3 linked regions of the Homo sapiens genome follow. The protein of the gene in region 1 purifies or fractionates together with the protein of each later gene. This does not show direct contact. Each region holds a gene or a part of one and is shown on either strand. Other genes may lie near its edges.

Region 1 (7,534 bases):
TACTGATACATGTTAAATGATGTACTGATACATGAACCTTCAGAACATTATGCCACATGGAAGAAGCCAGTCACCAAAAAAACACACATTTTATATGATTCCATTCATTTGAAATGCCCAAAGTGACTAAATCTATAAATACAGAAAACAGAGCAGTAGTTGTTTAAGGCTAGGTGAGGGGAAAGGGAATGGAGTTCTGGGGTGTGATAATCTAAGGGATGGCTGGGTTCTTTCTAAGAAAACGTTCTAAATTTGATTATGGTGATGGTTGCATAGCTCTATGAATACATTAAACCCATTTAATTGCAAACTTTAAATGAATTAGTTATATGATACGTGAATGTCAATAAAACTGCTACAAAAATAGCAATAATCCAACAAGTTTTAAAACTTAATCCAAAAGAGAAAGTAAAGATAAGAGATACAACTGCTAAGAATGCAAAGAAAGCCAGAACAGTGAAATTCAGAGTCTTACGGTACCGGTACCATGCAAGAGTGGGACACAGAAAGAAAATATTAGAACTTCAATTTCTATTTGATTTTTACATAAAAATAATAAAAATAAAATTAAGTTTTACTAAAATGTATGATATGGTTGACCAGTGCCTTTACTCAAAGGATCATGTGCCTTGTGAGGTTGAAGAGGCATCCTGGAAAAAGAATAAGAGTTCCACAAGAAAGCAGGCTGACCATTCATTCATTTTTTTTCCTTCTCAGCATATTGCAATACTTGACCGGTTAGGTGAATTTATAGATTATACTATTTAGATTTAATAAAATACATCCCTCCTAGAATGAGTAAGTGGCTGCAAAACATTCCTGCAAATAAAACATTGCTTGAAGCTAATAATTGCATTTTGTGCACAAATGAAAAACAAGAAAACGGCAGAGCTTATCTACTATGATCTCTTCTGTGGATAACACAGAATAAATATTAACAATAAATATTTGTTACATGAATAATATAAAAATCATGAAAAGCAAGAAGAACACTAAGGAAATTCAGTAAACAATTCTTCACTTTTAGTACATGTACCTATACTTGTTACCACCATCCTCCCCCAAACAGGGTAAATATAGATAGAAATGTTGATCTTTATTATTACAATCACATAAAATGGAAACACATTAGGAATTTACACATGGGTATGTTTTATGTAGAAGATTAAACTATAGACGTGGCACGGTGGCTCACGCCTGTAATCCCAGCAATTTGGGAGGCTGAGACGGGCGGATCACTTGAGGTCACAAGTTGGAGACCAGCCTGGCCAACATGGCGAAACTCCGTCTCTACCAAAAACACAAAAAAATAACGGGGCGTGGTGGCGGGCACTTGTAATCCCAGCTACTCTGGAGGCTAAGGCAGGAGAATGGATTGAACCTGGGAGGTGGAGGTTGCAGTGAGCGGAGACTGCGCCACTATACTCCAGCCTGGGCAACAGAACAAGACTCTGTCTCAAAAAAAAAAAATAAGACTAAACTACAAGAGATCAAGTTATTTTCATGTAACAAATTTCTCATTAATCTTATTGGAAGCATGCCTTTAACAGTGTGTCTTAATTAATTCAAATATATAAGGGCAACAGTGCTATACAAGAACCTCTAGAGTATATTAAAACATTCAAAGACATTGAGAAGTAGTCCAAAGCTGTGCTGGACTCTATAATAAGAAATCATGCTTCTTTCTGGTAACTAAAGACACACTGTTTGCTGGTTTAAGGATGAAAGAACATTTTCAAGTTGTAGTAAAGTATAATATCATCAACTGACACACGGTGGTAATAAACCACCAAGTAGGAAGAGCTTAAGGACTTGATGCCAGAGAAAAAAACTAACAGAAAAAAACTGAAAACAGCAAAGGCAGAGGGCCGGGCGCGATGGCTCACGTCTGTAATCCCAGCACTTTGGGAGGCCAGGGTGAGCGGATCACTTGAGCTCAGGAGCTCGAGACCAGCCTGACCAACATAGAGAAACCCCATCTCTGATGAAAATACAAAATTAGCCGGGTGTGGTGACGCCTGCCTGTAATCCCACCTACTCAGGAGGCTGAGACAGGAGAATCGCTTGAACCTGGGAGGCGGAGGTTGCGGTGAGCCAAGATGGCGCCACTGCACTCCAGCCTGGGCAACAAGAGCAAAACTCCGTCTCAAAAAAAAAAAAAAAAAGAAAAAGAAAAAGAAAAAAGAAAGGAAGGAAGAAAGAAAAGAAAAGAAAAACAGCAAAAGCAGAGAGTCAGGAAAGCCCTTCGCTAATGTAGCAGGTGACAGACTTCATTTTATGAGACCTCAGCCCCATTAGTCAGAACGAAGTATTTCTACAAAGTACCTGTAACTGAAAAGATCCTCCCCGAGACATCACTAAACTATTAGTTACTGTGTAGCTAGGGACTGCCAGCAAATTAATTCCCTAAGTGACAGTTCAGAGATTCTCGTGTTTTTGTTTTGTTTTGTTTTAAAGAGGATGCAGACACCAAGAAGGTTTTTGTGTTTGTTTTCAATTAATATTTAGAAAGAAGACTTTTAAAAAGCAGTATCAACTGGCATGCGAGACAAAGAGAGGAGTTCAGTGTGGATATGGGCATTTCTGCTGAAGCCCAGTAGAAAGAGTACACTAATTACAACAAGAAAAGGAAAAGAAGAATCTGCATGGATGAAGAAAAAAACATACAACCCTTCGTAGTAGTCAAGGTAGAATGTGTTTGCGGCGTGATCTTTTTTGCAAGCCCAGCCACGTGTCCTTATAGAATCCCAAGGGTTCCACTTGCTCCCCGGGACCAAAAGCAGCGCCCCAAGGGAGGAGCCAAGTGCTGTGGACCCGATCTACACGTAGCCAACCCAGCAGATCCCAAAGCCCGGCGTCTCCTCTCCCCCACCTAGGATGTTCTGCCACCTGGACCCGACGCGTAGCAGGGCTCTCTGTAGCCATATTTCGCTAGATCCTTCTTTCTCCTGTAGTTTCAAGTGTCTAAGCAAAGCTCCCAGAGCAATCACGAGACTTCTGTGACAGGAGCCGTTTTCTTCCGGGAGATAAACAGCTCCCGCCCTGCGGAAATCCTGCAGCTTCGCTGAGGTGGCTGCTTCCAATCGGCCCCTCCTCTGGCTCCTCCTCCCTGGACTCAGCCAGGGTTCCCTCCAAGCAGCAGTCAGGTACAGCCTCCGTCCTGCTCTTAGCTCCCAGGGAGGGACTAGGGCCTCGCAGGAGCCCCTGCGCAGAGCACGTGCGAAGCTGACTAGTGAGGTTTTCTTTTTGCGCCCTGTGGATGTCAGAGAACAGTGTCATAACCTGGCGCCCTACATACACCTAGTTTCTGATCTGTCTCGGGCTGCGTTTTTTTGTTTGTTTGTTTGTTTTTTAGTTATGGTTTTGGTCTTTATTGTTCAGCAGCTACTCCCCAAACAACACTAAAATGTTTAGCTATTGCTTCTTTGCGGATTACTTCCAAATCAAGCAACATAAAATTGATGTATCACTTGATTTAAATAGATTTGCATTTATTTACAGGTTAGAGGCATTGGTGGGCCTTCCTAGAACACAGTAGTGAAAAGACGGAAACACATGCCTTTTAATGTGCAAGACCCCTTAGCATCCAGTTAAACCTCTTCATTTTTCACTTATCTAGAGAAATCCTAGATGCCCTATCAAAAGTACACTATCCCTAGTACATCACTAACTTTTCCTTCCTTCATAGTTCTCCTATTTGCTTATGTATTTATTGTGTCTCTCACCACCTCCATCATCACTACCACTAGAAAGCAACTGGGGGCAGGCAGATTGGTTTTTAATGAATAGGTAAGATAAACTGAATGAACGACGAAAGGTGAAATGATGTGCCTGAGGTCACAGTGATCATTGGGAACAAAACTGGAATTAAAATTCAGATCTATTAACTCTCAATCTAGTGCACTTTGCACCTCAGAAATATTGAGATTAAACCCAAGCAAAGACAGCTAGCAATAAACCCATTCCAAAGTTTCCTGATTAAGGAAGTTTGAGCCAACATGCCCAACACACTAGGGGTAGTAGCATAACTCAGAGAGATTCGATAAGTTGTATACATCAGTAAGTTACTGCTCCAGAATTTCTATATGTATATGCATACTTTGTCTCCATGTTTCCTTCCCCCTTCTGTATACATGTATACAGGAGGAAGGGGGAAGGAAACATGGAGACAAAGTGTGAATGGACAATAAAGCATAGCCAAAGAGTGGCAGCCCCTTGGCACCCCGTTGGGTTATTACTGTAAATGATACATCAAAGAAACAAAGTTACTCTGGTCTCAGGGCAGCTTTCTCACTATTATTTCAGTCCCTCTTTATCATTTTCAAATGAATGAATTATATCTTCTTGTTTCTGGGCCCCAATAAATCCCAGTTTGATGTTCATTTTGGTTTAATTTTGAGTAACAGGAGTCATCACTGTCACTTGTAAATAGTTTTAATAGGGAGATAACCTAAATTTTAAAAAAAAATGTAAAATGTTTAGGGACATCAGTAAATACAGAAAAGAACAGAATCTTTTTTTTTTTTTTTAGATGGAGTTTCGCTCTTTGTTGCCCAGGCTGGAGTGCAATGGCATGATCTCTGTTCACTACAACCTCCACCTCCCAGGTTCAAACGATTCTCCCGTCTCAGCCTCCCAAGTAGCTGGGAATACAGGCAGCCGCCACCACACCAGCTAATTTTTGTATTTTTAGTAAAGACGGGGTTTCACCATGCTGGGCAGGCTGGTCTCGAGCTCCTGACCTCAGGTGATCAGCCCACCTCGGCCTTCCAAAATTCTGGGATTAAAGGTGTGAGCCACCGTGCCCAGCCCAGAATCATTTTTTATTCAGATGTTTCTAATATATTCTTTTGCATTAGTTGAAAAATAACAAATTTTAAAGTTTTGAATTTTTTTAACAGTCCAAAATAAACTCATTTTATACAGGGTTAAAAAAAAATGACTGTAGAAACTGTTTCGAAAAAGAATACTTCCTACTGAATATGTACTTGATGACCGAACATTAACTTTGCTAAATGAAACCAGATGGCAAATCATTAGTTTGGACCTTGGATACATTGCTATTGCAGTCTCAACAAAACCGATGCAGACTAGAAAGCACCTTACAGAGCAATTAGTAAAGCATCCTTTTTTGAAATGATTGGCACAAAGTAAAACAGGATTAACAGAGCTAGAACTAAAACCTAGGTCTCTAGACTCCTAGCCTAGAGGCCATACTACTTCTGAATATGTGACTTTTGTTGAGACCCCAGTAAACTGTGCTTAAAAATAAATTATTGAAATGATTAGAATCCTTGTCCCAAAATAAAATGTGTACATTATAATTTTCATAAAGGATTACTCTTAAAATAACCTGTCCAAACTACTAGAGAACCCCAAATGGACACCAAAAACAAAACATTACTTTCTTATACTACCTTCCTTATACTAGGCATCTTGCTAAGTAAGCACTTTGCGTATATTATTGTCTCTTTAAACCTTTCCAACAATCCTTATGGGATAGAAAAATATTATTTCCTTTTCAATTTCAAGAAGATATTCCTTTAGTTCTTATTAGACATATCTAATAGTGAAAACATTTAAACATTTGGCTGGGCACAGTGGCTCATGCCTATAATCCCAGCACTTTGGGAGGCCAAGGTGGGCAGATCACCTGAGGTCAGGAGTTCGAGAACGGCCTGGCCAACATGGTGAAACCCCATCTCTACTAAAACTACAAAAATATAGCCAGGTGTGGTGGCGGGCGCCTGTAATCCCAGCAGCTTGGGAGGCTGAGGCGGGAGAATCGCTTGAACCCAGGAGATGGAGATTGAGTAAGCCAAAATCACGCCACTGCACTCCAGCCTGGGCAACCAAGAGCGAAACTCCATCTCAAAAAAAAAGAAAAGAAAATATTTAAACATTTATATTTTACAGTATTTTTATTTTCACAAATCCTGAACCTCTGGTTCTTTGCTTTTTGCAAGTAGGCACTCTTACAATAGGTTTAGAATCTGAATTATAAACTAATAAATGGTATATTATGATGGAGTCTTAAACAGAAACCTAATTAATAAACTTGAAATTGTTTCTCCTCAAAGGATATTAGTCTCCATTCAGATAAAATATTATAGCAAACTAAACAAAAACAAAACAAACACTAAAATGAAAGAATACAAAAACTTGATCCAAAATATGAGTTAAAGCATGGGTGTTAGAGACTTACAGACCTGGCTAGTGCCTATTGATGTTTCTCAGCTTAGAAATCACTTCCTTCAGGAAGTTTTCCATGTTCTCTACCCAAAACTAAATGTCTAAGACCACAGAGGGATTGACCATTTATCTGAAATAATGTTATTTCTGTGGTTTAATCTGTTTGTGCAACCTCTGGAAAATATTTCCTATTTTGACTTACAATAAAAACTATTGTTCACAATTGGGAGAATCTACTTCAGTGACCTATTTTGGATATTTTCTCATTATAGTAAATAATATGTAATACTTGTTTATGTCTTCTTTATAATGATGTTACATTCCTTCTTTTTTGTTGTTGTTGTTGAGACCAAGTCTCGCTCTTGTTGCCCAGGCTGGAGTGCAATGGCGCGATCTCGGCTCACTGCAACCTCCGCCTTCCGGGTTCAAGTGATTCTCCTGCCTCAGCCTCCCGAGTAGCTGGGATTACAGGTGCCTGCCACTTAATTTTTGTATTTTTAGTAGAGATGGGGTTTCAACATGTTGGCCAGGCTGGTCTCAAACTCCTGAACTGAGGCCATCCACCTGCCTCGGCCTCCCAAAGTGCTGAGATTACAGGCGTGAGCTACTGCACCCGGCCCCTTATTCTTCTGTTCATAAAATAGATACTGCTCTCTAGTGTATATAATCATTAAATGGCAAAAGATAAACTCATGAATCAGAGAAATCTATATTTATGTAGTTATGGAGGAAATAAAAATTGTGCAAAAATGCTTTAACCGAACATAGATTGTTTTGCAGAGTGAAAAACAAAGCAAAACAAAACGAAGACTCTAAGCACCCTCTGCTTGCCCAGTCATACAAAGCATCACATCAGTACTCTAATTACTTGTTTTCTGTCTAGTCTAAGTTTTTCTACTCAAAGTGTGGTCCTCAGAACAGCAGCATCAGCGTCACTTGAAAGTTTTTAGAAATACATTATCTTGGGCCGGGCGCAGTGTAATTCCAGCACTTTGGGAGGCCGAGGCGGGCAGATCACAAGGTCGGGAGATCGAGACCATCCTGGCTAACACAGTGAAACCCCATCTCTACTAAAAATACAAAAAATTAGCTGGGCGTGGTGGTGGGCGCCTGTAGTCCCAGCTACTCGGGAGGCTAAGGCAGGAGAATGGCGTGAACCTGGGAGGCGGAGCTTGCAGTGAGCGGAGATGGCACCACTGCACTCCAGCCTGGGTGACAGAGCAAGACTCCGTCTCAATAAAAAAAAAAAAAAAAAGAAATACATTATCTTGGGCCCAGACCTACTGAATCAGAATCTACAATGCAAGTCAAACATGCCATTTTAAATTTTCTAGAAGCCACT
Region 2 (7,302 bases), on another chromosome or scaffold:
CATAAAAAATTAGTAAAGCCCAAAATATATATTTTATACTGAGTTCTAATACACTGAAAGTGTTTTTAATATGCAAAGAGGCTTCTCTAATATTCCTTATTTTTCCCTAAACTGAAAGTTACATTAAAAAGTATAAGAAAATTATTTCTTATTCCAGAGGCAGGTTAGAAACAATACATCATAATGAAATCCACACATTTTACATTGATGTATTTAAGGCACAGTGAATTCTATATGTGATTTTACTTACTTACCTGGATAACTCTTCCCCTAAACTCTGCAAACTCCATTCTGTTATCTTCAGTTCATGTCTTAAGGAAGCAACATTTGCAAGCAAACTTTCCTCTTCATTGTCTTTATTATAGTAGTCTGATGAACTAGATTCCATTTCTTAAAAAAAAAATGAATTTCTTGTACCTTGTCTGAAAGATTCTGTAGTTTCAGTCAAAATACTCACATGAATAGAATTTAACTCATTAGTTTTCTATTTTAAATGTTGTGAAATCTTTCATGGTGGTTTAAAACAAAACAAAAAATCAATAATAATGAATTTATCTGTAGTGTAAAGCCATAAAGGAATTCAATACAATTTCAATGAATGAATTTTTCATTTTAGCCAGGGTCTAGTTATTATAGTTCTCTTTTGTAAGCATACCTGATCTTCCTAACAATTGTTAATTATTTTCATTACATGTTAAGGAAACTAAGAATCAGACATTAAATAACTTGCTCAAAGTCACACAAACTGTAAATGGTGAAATCAAGATTTGAATCCAAGTCATTAGGATGCAAAGACCATTAAATTATGTCGCATTGTAGCTTTATTACATATTACATATCAATTTCAATATGAGGTGTTTGAACTTTCATAATTACATTACAAGTACTGGACATCTGATTAAATGGTATCATTACATTCATATTTTGTTAGAAGGGAATTTATTACCAGATAAAAGCTGTCTCCTCCTCCTACGCCCAATAGTTATAAAATTTTAAAAAGACACATTTACAAGTCACAACCACAGGGATCAAAATAACATTTGGCAGGTCAACTCATAGAAATGAAGAAAAGCTTTTGTTTCTTCAGTGGATGAGTATCTCTAGGGTTGTGAAACTACTAAATTTCTTTGCATATAAAAATCACAATAAAGCATCACATTTTATTATTGTAATTAATACAATAAAAAACTAAAGCTTTATAATCTCCACTACTACAGAGCTTTCTGCGCAATCTTAAAATTACATTCCTCTTTCAGATCCCATTTACCTTTTTCACTGTAGCATCTCCTTCAACGCCCTTCTTAGCATTCTGATCCCATCCCAAGTTCCAAAAGGTTAAAAGTCCTGTGCATTACGTTCAGGACCGCAATGTACTTAGAGAAGCTCAATATTTTGAATGAATTAACGAATACTAAACTGTCCTTCCTTCCCTCATCCAGTTAGAATGGTATGTTACATTTATTCCCCACTCAAAAATTCTCAGATGTAGGGAGGAAGATTAAAAAGAAAACTCCCACCTTATGGAAAGAAAGTGGCAGGAAATTAAATGAGATACTATGTAATCTTAATAGACAAACTGGTTCTATCCTCTTTCCCTTTTTTGTTTCCACAAATTTGCTTCTGCTTAAGTGACAAGACTCTCGCAGACAAGTCAATAAATCAGGTCCCCATCCTGCTTTACCTATTCAACATCTCTAGCTCTCTGTAGGATGGTGAAGGAGAAAAGGGTAGAGAAAATTGGGCAAATTCTATAATACCATTTGGTACTATATATTTCATCTTAAATCAGGTTTTAGTTCAACATCTGTGTATTGCCATGCAAGAAATAACTCCCAGTCCGGGCGCGGTGGCTCACGCCGGTAATCCCAGCACTTTGGGAGGTCAAGGCGGGTGGATCACGAGGTCAAAAGTTAAAGACCAACCTGGCCAAGATGGTGAAACCCCGTATCTACTAAAAATACAAAAAAATTAGCCGGGGGTGGTGGCGAGCGCCTGTAATCTCAGCTACTCGGGAGGCTGAGGCAGAGAATTGCTTGAACCTGGGAGGCGGAGGTTGCAGTGAGCCGAGATCGCGCCACTGCACTCCAGCCTGGGCGACAGAGTGAGACTCGGTCTCAAAAAAAAAAGAAAGAACTCCCTAACTCTTCTGCAGTAGCAATGAATATATTTGATACTAAAATGTTTTCATTTTCCTAGTGGGACATTTACTGTCAAATGAATGTCCTTAACTTCAATTTACAGTAGTTACCCAAAAAAGGCTATCTTCACTGACTATGCATACCTAGAAAAGCACATCATCCTACTCACCGACCTTAACAACATCATCTTTCGGCCCTAATTAACAATGTGTTTGTAGGTTTGCACACGCACACCCATCAAACGAAGGACAAGTGTTCTTTTATACCCTATGTATGTGATACAATGGGCTGTAGTCGAAAAAGATTCCTCATTTTGGAAAGAAGTCATAACTTTATGTAGTAGTCTCCTGTCTCAAGATCGCTTGACACAGCTAATCTTACATCCGTCTGAAAGAAGCGGGGGCGGGGGTGGGGGACGGAAGTGACAGTTTCCTCTTTTTTTTTTTTTTTTTAATTTTATAGAGACAGTGGCTCGCCATATTGCCAAGGCTGGCCTCGAACTCCTGGGCTCAAGCAATCCTTCCGCCTCGACATCCCAAAGTGCTGAGGTAACAGGCGTAAGCCACTGCGCCCGGCCTCCTATTTTTCATCAAATAAAATACAACCGTTCAGAGCAGCATGCTCAGCAACCACGAGGACCAGTCCCAGCGCATCCAAGGTGCCGGGAGGGAAAGGAACAGAACTCCCCCAGGTAAGCCGGTTTCCCCACGCCAAGGCGCAGTCGCTCACCACCCAAATCGTCGCTGGGGAGAGACCCACCCGGCGACTGCGCGCTTCGCACTCGAGTCTGCGTTAGGAAGCCTCTGACCCTTTCCCGGGCCCCTGCGCGTGGAAGCCTCGGACACAACTCGGAGAACCAGCGAACCCCGGCAGCACAGAATTCGAACCGCCGCGGGAGCCGTTGGGACGCGCCTACCCGGTCACTGCCCCGCCCCGGCGCAGACTGCGTGAGGCGCCGCCGAAGGCGCGGGGCTTGCCGGGGATCGTGGTCGGCGAGCGCGCCCGAGCCCACTAGCGGAGCCCGCCCGGGACTACATTTCCCACAATTACCGCCATGATGCCCATTGGTGGGGGAAGCCATGGGAACCGGAGGCCGTCAGGGGGAGAGGCGGGCGGCGCTCACGCCTGGCCTGAGGGGGCCGAGACTGAGGCGGTTGCGGAATAGGACTGCTAGCCCCGCCCAGAGTCCCTACCCTTTGGAGAACTGCGCTTCTCTTTCGGAGGGAGTGTTCGCCGCCGCCGCGGCCGCCACCTGGAGTTTCTTCAGACTCCAGATTTCCCTGTCAACCACGAGGAGTCCAGAGAGGAAACGCGGAGCGGAGACAACAGTACCTGACGCCTCTTTCAGCCCGGGATCGCCCCAGCAGGGATGGGCGACAAGATCTGGCTGCCCTTCCCCGTGCTCCTTCTGGCCGCTCTGCCTCCGGTGCTGCTGCCTGGGGCGGCCGGCTTCACACCTTCCCTCGATAGCGACTTCACCTTTACCCTTCCCGCCGGCCAGAAGGAGTGCTTCTACCAGCCCATGCCCCTGAAGGCCTCGCTGGAGATCGAGTACCAAGTAAGTGCGGAGGATAAACCAGCCTCCTTCCTTTAACCCAGCTGCACTGCGTTGTCGCCTCTCACCCGTTTAGAAACTTCTGGTGGACGGCCCTGGTGGTGAAGAGGCGAGGGCCGTTCAGGAAGCCAGCCCGCTCCGCGCAGGCGCGCGAGGCGAGGCGAGGCTCTCGCTGGGGCCGGGGACCCAGAACTTAGGCTGGACCTGGAATTGATGACTACCCGCCTTCTCCCCTTTCCTCCGGTGGGAAGGAGGCCAGAACTGGTGATGTCGCTGGCTTTTCTCTTTGTTTCCTAATTCGCCCACTGCTTTTCTTAGCCACTACACGCTCTCATACTGAGAATTTCACAATGCAGAACTGATACACGTTCTCCTTCATCATTGGACAAGGTGATGACACTTGTTTGAATCACCCCCACCCCTTTCACACAGTTCAGATGTTACAAATCACTGTCTTTGCTTCAGTTAAGGGTTTTTGGATTATGATCGTGTAATTGGCATTAAGCCCGATTTTGAAATTTTTTGGAAGACGCTGTTGCTATATTTAATGATACATTTCCGTTTAAGTTATATATCCATTATTTTCAAAAGATCAAATCGTATATTAAAACTTTATAACCTTTCTTTTCATTTTTTCATTGAGCATTGTAAGCATTTCCCTCGTGTCATTGTTTTTTTTTTTTTTTTTTGAGACGGAGTCTCGCTTTGTTGCTCAAGCTAGAGTTGGAGTGCAGTGGCGCTATCTCGGCTCATTGCAACCTCCGCCTCCCGGGTTCAAGCGATTCTCCTGCCTCAGCCTTCCGAGTAGCTGAGATTACAGACGTGCGCCACCATGCCCAGCTAATTTTTGTATTTTTAGTAGAGACGGGGTTTCACCATGTTGGCCAGGCTGGTCTCGAACTCCCGACCTCAGGCGATCCACCCGCCTCGGCCTCCCAAAGTGCTGGGATTACAGGCGTGAGCCACCATGCCTAGCATGTTTTCTTTTTAGTATCTGCATAATATTCTTGCTGGGAATTACCTTATTTTATGTAGTCATGGTGGTAGGGGGTAATTTCTTAGAAGAAATCTTGTTCGTTCCACAGCAAATTCCGATGTTTTCAGGTAGCAGTACAGGGGGGAAAGAAAAGGCATTGATGTGTTTCATCTTTCAGTTTTTTAGAAGTTAATTATAATCATCAAATGTTAATTTTTTAAGTTGATGTAGAGAATTGTTTTTAAATACCAGGTACTGTCACATACAGAGCAAAATAAAAAGTTGTAGAATTTTTTATACGATGGAACTTTAGGATTAAGTTGTATATAGATACACACGATAAGCACAGAGAATAAAATATCTAAAATCACATAGTGAGCAAAACTGAGGCTAAAACTCAGTGTTTCTTGATTTCCAGTAAAGTTCAAAAGTTCAACATTTACTGAACAGTTAACACGTGCCAGGAATTGTGCATGGAGGTGGGGGAGACGGAGGGGGAGCTGGGTTGTGCGGGATGTAGGTAAAAGAGAAAGAAAGAATCCCTCTTCTCAAAGAGCTTAATAAAGGTTACTGGCTCATAAACAGGTAATTTCAATAAAGGATGGCTAAGTACCAGTAGAGGAGGGTCACTTCTAAGGGTTTCAGAAGAGGATTCCTGGAGAAAATAAAATTTAATCCAGAAAGATGCTTAATTGAGACGAAAATGCCAGGAACAAGGGGCATTTCAGAAAAGCGAACAAAAAGATCCATAGTTCTTAAAATACATAGTGTAAGTGGGGATGGTTAGTGTGTAGTGGACACTACAAGTACTGAGTTTGTATTAGACTTTAAGACATATAAAGTCTAGGGTGGGAGTAGCAGAAAAGGACATCGGAGAGGCCAGAAGGCTGGGGTCATTAAGCATGAATCATAGCCTTGTTTGCCGTGCTGAGTAGGTTTTCCTTAATTTTGTACAAGTCCATTTAAGATTTAAGCAGATCACTGGATGCAGTGTGGAAAATGGATTTAAGGAGAGCAAAATTAGAGTCAAGGAAACTAACTAGAGGGCTAGTGAAATAGTCTAGATAAGAAAACAATTTGTATTAATAAAAAAATCTTCAGTATTTACACACATATTAGGGAAGATATCTATTTTAACTACTGTCCTCTTATAGTTAAGAGCACCAGCTCTTAACCTTAGCCTGGGTTCAAATCTTGACTCTGCCTACTTAAAACTTATGTGATCTTCTCACTTGTAAAATAGAGATAATAATTGTAACTACATCATAGAGTTGATTTGAAAAAGCATGAGTTAATAAATGCTCATATTCAGTGTAAAGTAGTCTATTAAAAAATGCTCATAGATCATCCCTGACACATAGTAAATAATCAATGAATGTTAATTTTACATTTATACCTCTATAGTTATGTAGCTGGCTTGGTTTAGCTTTATTCTTTACATCTTTAGTCACTCTTAAAGGGACTGTTCCTTTTTTTTTTTTTTTTTTTTTTTTTTTGAGACAGAGTCTCCCTCTGTCACTCTGTTACCCAGGCTGGAGTGCAGTGGCGCGACCTTGGCCCACAGCAACCTTCATCTCCCGAGTTCAAGTGATTCTCCCGCCTCAGCTTCCCGAGTAGCTGGATTACAGGCATGTGCCACCACACCCAGCTAATTTTTGTATTTTTAGTAGAGACGGGGTTTCACTATGTTGGCCAGACTGGTCCCAAACTCCTGATCTCAAGTGATCTGCCAGCCTCAGCCTCCAAAGTGCTGGGATTATAGGTGTGAGCCACCGCGCCCGGCTGGGACTATTCCTTTAAAACATTCTCCCTAAACAATTTGTTTTGATTAAGGAAAGAGGTAAAATCATTTGTCTGTAATCCTAGACAGTGTTGGTGAGATGTGTAGGGTAACTATCATCTTCCACCCTGTTTGTATTTCCCAACTTGTTTAATTTCCCAGTAACTACATCCTACTAATTTTTGTCTTAAAGTTAGTTTTTAAAATTTTATAGAACAATCTAGTTTTGTCCTTGGTTACTTATTGAAAATTTTACTAATTTCTTACTTTTTAGGTTTTAGGAGAATACTTTTTGGATAATTGACTAGCCTCACATTATATTGATAGAGGTTCTTGAAAACTTTAATGCCAATTCATGTATCTTATGACTAAAATAGATAATCCATTTAGAAATTTAAGTCATTCTTGCGTGCTTGATATGTGTCAGCACTATCCAAGTTGCTAGGGATACAATGGTGAGTGAAAATATCAGCTAGGTGCAGTGGCTCACACCTGTAATCCCAACAGTTTGGGAGGCCAAGGTGGGAGGATCACTCAAGCACAGGCGTTTCACACCAGCCTGGACAACATAGCAAGACCCCATCTCTACCAAAAATAAAGTTAGCCAGGCATGGTAGCACACACTTGTGGTTCCAGCTACTTGGGAGGCTGAGGTGGGAGGATCACTTGAGCCCAGGAGGTTGAGGCTATGGTGAGCTGTGATCACACCACTGTACTCCAGCCTCGGTGACAAGAGCGAGACCCTGCCTCAAAAAAATATATATATATATGTTTGTGTGTGTGTGTGTGTGTATAGTCTGTGCCCTCATACAATCAAGTATTAATTAATCAAATTATTACACAAATACATGTC
Region 3 (3,917 bases), on another chromosome or scaffold:
GTAGTAAAGATAAGATAATTAATTAATCAACACCATAGGCAGCATCGCTTATTTAAAAATTACAGAGGCCAGGCTTGTTGGCTCAAGCCTGCAATCCCAGCAGTTTGGGAGATCAGGGTGGGATGGTCCCTTAAAGCCAGGAGTTCGAGACATGCCTGGGCAACAAAGCAAGACCCCTGTCTCAATAAAAACTTTTTATAAAAAATTGGCTGGGCATGGTAGTTCACGCCTATAATCCCAGCACTTTAGGAGGCTGGGGCAGGCAGATCTCTTGAGCCCAGGAGTTCAAGACCAGCCTGGGCAACATAGACCCTGTCTCTACAAAAAATATAAAAATTAACTGGGCATAGTGGCATGCACGTACCCATAGTCCCATCTACTCCAGAGGCTGAAGTGGGATGATCACTTGAGCACGGGAGGCTGAGGTTGCAGTAAACCATGACGACACCACTGTACTCCAGCCTGGGCAAGAGAGTAACACTCTCAAAAAAAAAAAAAAATTGTGGCATAAAAAAATACAATGAAATCTGGTTAAAAGCACTTTATTGATTACAGTATCAATTCACAACATTTCATAAAGCCACTGTACAAATAGAGGAATGAATCACTGTGTAAGAAAGATCTAAGAACAGTTAAATCATGATACAAGTCCATAGTTTATATGGTTTAGAGCTTTAAGAGCCTTAATCTAACACGTTTACCCTTCCCATAATTAGACTACTACTGACATTCATGTTCAGTTGACCACGAGTGTGTACAAATCATTCTAGGTAAAGACAAACACTTTCAGAATGCTTTAACAGAAAAATAATTTTAATCAACTTTAAAAACACACTTAGATGTGGATGCCTTTGGATAGGAAAATAGAAATGCAAGTGTTCAGATGCTTCTTTGAAAAGAAAACAATAGGATAGAGCACCATTGTGTAAAAGACAAAAGGCTTGAGATATCTACCAAGTATATCACTGAAGTTCTATTAATTAAGAAATAAATACTGTATGATGTAAGATTTTGTTGAATACATTTAACACCAGTTGGAATATAGCTTTTTCCCCCCCGTAATGCTGCTTTATCACAACTGTATTTTACAAAATCAGCAACTGGATTTAAGAAAGAAGACATAGGAGATTTTATCAACATGCAAACATTTGCTAAATACAAGGTGTACCATCAATGTGTGATTAATTAATAAGTTACTTTTTAAAATAAAGTGCTAGCTTAGATATTCTACTATAAACCATTTCATTGAGTACCTATTATGTAACCAATATTTTAAAATATACACTGAATCTGAGGCAACCCAAAATGAACAATGGAAAGAAAACTAGTAAATCTGAAATGTACTTCACATTCTACTTAATCTAATTTAAAATATAAATTCATTGTGCAACCCATAAGAAAGATGGTCCAACCTGTGGGTATTTTTAAAAATTCTAACAGGAGAAATCATTTAAAATTTTGCTTTTTCACAATGGCAAAAAGGAAAGAATTTGAACATAATATTTAATTTTTAAAAAAATTCAGCCTGACTCCGACCCTGAAGATTTCAGAAAGAACATCGTCACTATTAAAATGATGACAGGCCCAAATGGGGGATTGTTTAACCAGTTTTCCTAAGTTAAACCAAGAATAAGCCACAAGTATTCAATTGTGTTACAACTTAGATCTGAGACATTTACATCAAAGCATACTTCCCTGAACATGTTCACATTTAAAATGCTTAAGGTCTTATTATTAAATCCAAAATACCAAAAGTATTAGAGGAGCTAGTTATACAATATTGGCACAGCATTTTTAAGCAATAATAAAAGTTTCATTTTGTCACCTTAAGTCAAGATCCATTTATCTATTAATAGGTTAAGTCTGAAATTCTGTAACATATTCTAGAAGCACCTACATCCATTATTTCCAGGAGACTAGTTTACTACTATCATGCAATCGCTGAGGTCATATGAGTCTAAAATGAAGGGAATTGCTGAACAGGCCCTTTTGCTGTTGAGATATGAAGCCCAAATCTTTGCCTCTGAAGACGGAATTCAATGTGGTGTGTGTAATCACAAGTAAAAACTTGAGCTAGGGAGGAACCTTGGATATTCAGTCTACATCTCAAACAGCATAGCTGCCAAAAATGAGGCCTGTCCATTAAAGTGGAGGAGATATCCTTGCTGATGGCAAAAACTGCTTTTTCTTTTTGGGACGGAATCTTGCTCTGTCGCTCGGGTTGGAGTGCAGTGGCGCCATCTCAGCTCACCAAAACCTCCACCTCCTGAGTTCAAGTAATTCTCTGCCTCAGCCTCACGAGTAGCTGACAGGCGCCCACCTCCACGCCCGGCTAATTTTTGTATTTTTAGTAGAGATGGGGTTTCACCATCTTGGCCAGGCTGGTCTTGAACTCCTGACCTCGTGATCCACCTGCCTCGGCCTCCCAAAGTGCTGGGATTACAGGTGTGAGCCACCATGCCTGGCCAAGAACTGCTTGCTGAAGCAGGTTTTTGGGACGATATGCTCAACACCACAGGGTGATAACATACTTAGAAAAGAATATGTATCTCTAAAATATTCTTGCCAGATCTCAAAAAACTACTCTTCTTGACATGCTACAGAGTCAACAAATTAACCTTCTCAGGCACATTATGTTTAAATGTTTCTTAGAAGGTAAAGAAGGAAACCTGGCTGGGCACGGTGGCTCACGTCTGTAATCCCAGCACTTTGGGAGGCTGAGGCTGGTGGATCACTTGAGGCCAGGAGTACGAGATCAGACTGGCCAAGATGGTGAAACCCCATCTCTACTAAAAATACAAAAATTAGCCGGGCATGGTGGCACATGCCTATAGTCCCAGCTACTTGGGAGGCTGAGGCACAAGAATTGCTTGAACCCAGGAGGCAGAGGTTGAGGTTGCAATGAGCCAAAATCACACCACTGTACACTCCAGCCTGGGTGACAGAGTGAGACTCTGTCTTTAAAAAAAAAAAAAAAGGAACATTAACTGCAATATTCTTGATGATGCAAATTTTTAAAAACTAAATCCAGCCAGATTTTTCAGCCTTAAAAACTAAGATCCAAACTATTCAACATCTCTACAAATTATATACTCATTGAATTCAGGAACAATAACAGAATTCAACAATCAGCTCAACTTAAACTGTAAGTAAACAAATATATTTAGCAACTGGAGCCCCTATTATTAGAAAGCAAAGGTGTAACCATGAAGTAATTGTGGTAGTGAGGCTACTCTGTCGCCATTTGTTTATGTGTATAATTAACCACAAGTGTTAAATAGTTTTTAGTTGCCGAGTAAATATTTAATTATGGGAATTGCTTTAAACTCCTCTTCATAAACTTTAAGAACATTAAAATAAATGTAATTTTAAAATATGTTAAGACCATAGAATTCCTGTGGTCTGTATGCCTGTGACTACTATAATAACTTTTAAGTAGAGGAGATACTCTCTTACATATTTAAGGTTATTTTTATGCATAATAGAATTGCTTTCTTCTGACTAACCTACATGGCAAACTTTCCCCAACCCTCTTTTTCTGGAAATGAATACATTCCTTTATTCTTTTCTCAAAGAACTGTTCTTTATGAAGTGATATAAATAGCCTACAAATAAACATTAATAGCAAAAGTTCATATAATTTTTTTTTTTTCCAATTTGAGATGGAGTCTCACTCTGTCGCCTAGGCTGGAGTGCAGTGGCACAATCTCGGCTCACTGCAACCTCTGCCTCCCGGGTTCAGGCGAATCTCCTGCCTCAGCCTCCCGAGTAGCTGGGATTACAGGAATGTGCCACCACGCCCGGCTAATGTTTGTATTTTTAGAAGAGATGGGGTTTCACCATGTTGGGTAGGCTGGTCGCGAACTCCTGACCTCAAGTGATCTGCCCACCTTGGCCTCCCAAATTGCTGGGATTAT

The links.
Region 2: the proteins of GALK2 (region 1) and CCDC18 purify together in Homo sapiens (affinity purification with mass spectrometry; 2 studies listed by BioGRID and IntAct, with this or other methods). This does not show direct contact.
Region 3: the proteins of GALK2 (region 1) and GNB4 purify together in Homo sapiens (affinity purification with mass spectrometry; 2 studies listed by BioGRID and IntAct, with this or other methods). This does not show direct contact.

The regions. Positions count from the first base shown.
Region 1 is NC_000015.10:49,165,714-49,173,247, reverse strand, and holds the start of GALK2 (N-acetylgalactosamine kinase), read right to left. Parts: upstream 3,002-7,534; 5' UTR 2,926-3,001; coding exon 2,873-2,925; intron 1-2,872. UniProt on the Homo sapiens protein: Acts on GalNAc. Also acts as a galactokinase when galactose is present at high concentrations. May be involved in a salvage pathway for the reutilization of free GalNAc derived from the degradation of complex carbohydrates.
Region 2 is NC_000001.11:93,176,448-93,183,749, reverse strand, and holds the start of CCDC18 (coiled-coil domain-containing protein 18), read right to left. Parts: upstream 3,027-7,302; 5' UTR 2,898-3,026; exon of another isoform or gene 2,868-2,897; intron 391-2,867; 5' UTR 389-390; coding exon 255-388; intron 1-254. Other genes in the region: TMED5 (transmembrane emp24 domain-containing protein 5 isoform 1 precursor), read left to right, coding at 3,508-3,696.
Region 3 is NC_000003.12:179,395,562-179,399,478, forward strand, and holds the end of GNB4 (guanine nucleotide-binding protein subunit beta-4), read right to left. Parts: 3' UTR 527-3,917; downstream 1-526. UniProt on the Homo sapiens protein: Guanine nucleotide-binding proteins (G proteins) are involved as a modulator or transducer in various transmembrane signaling systems.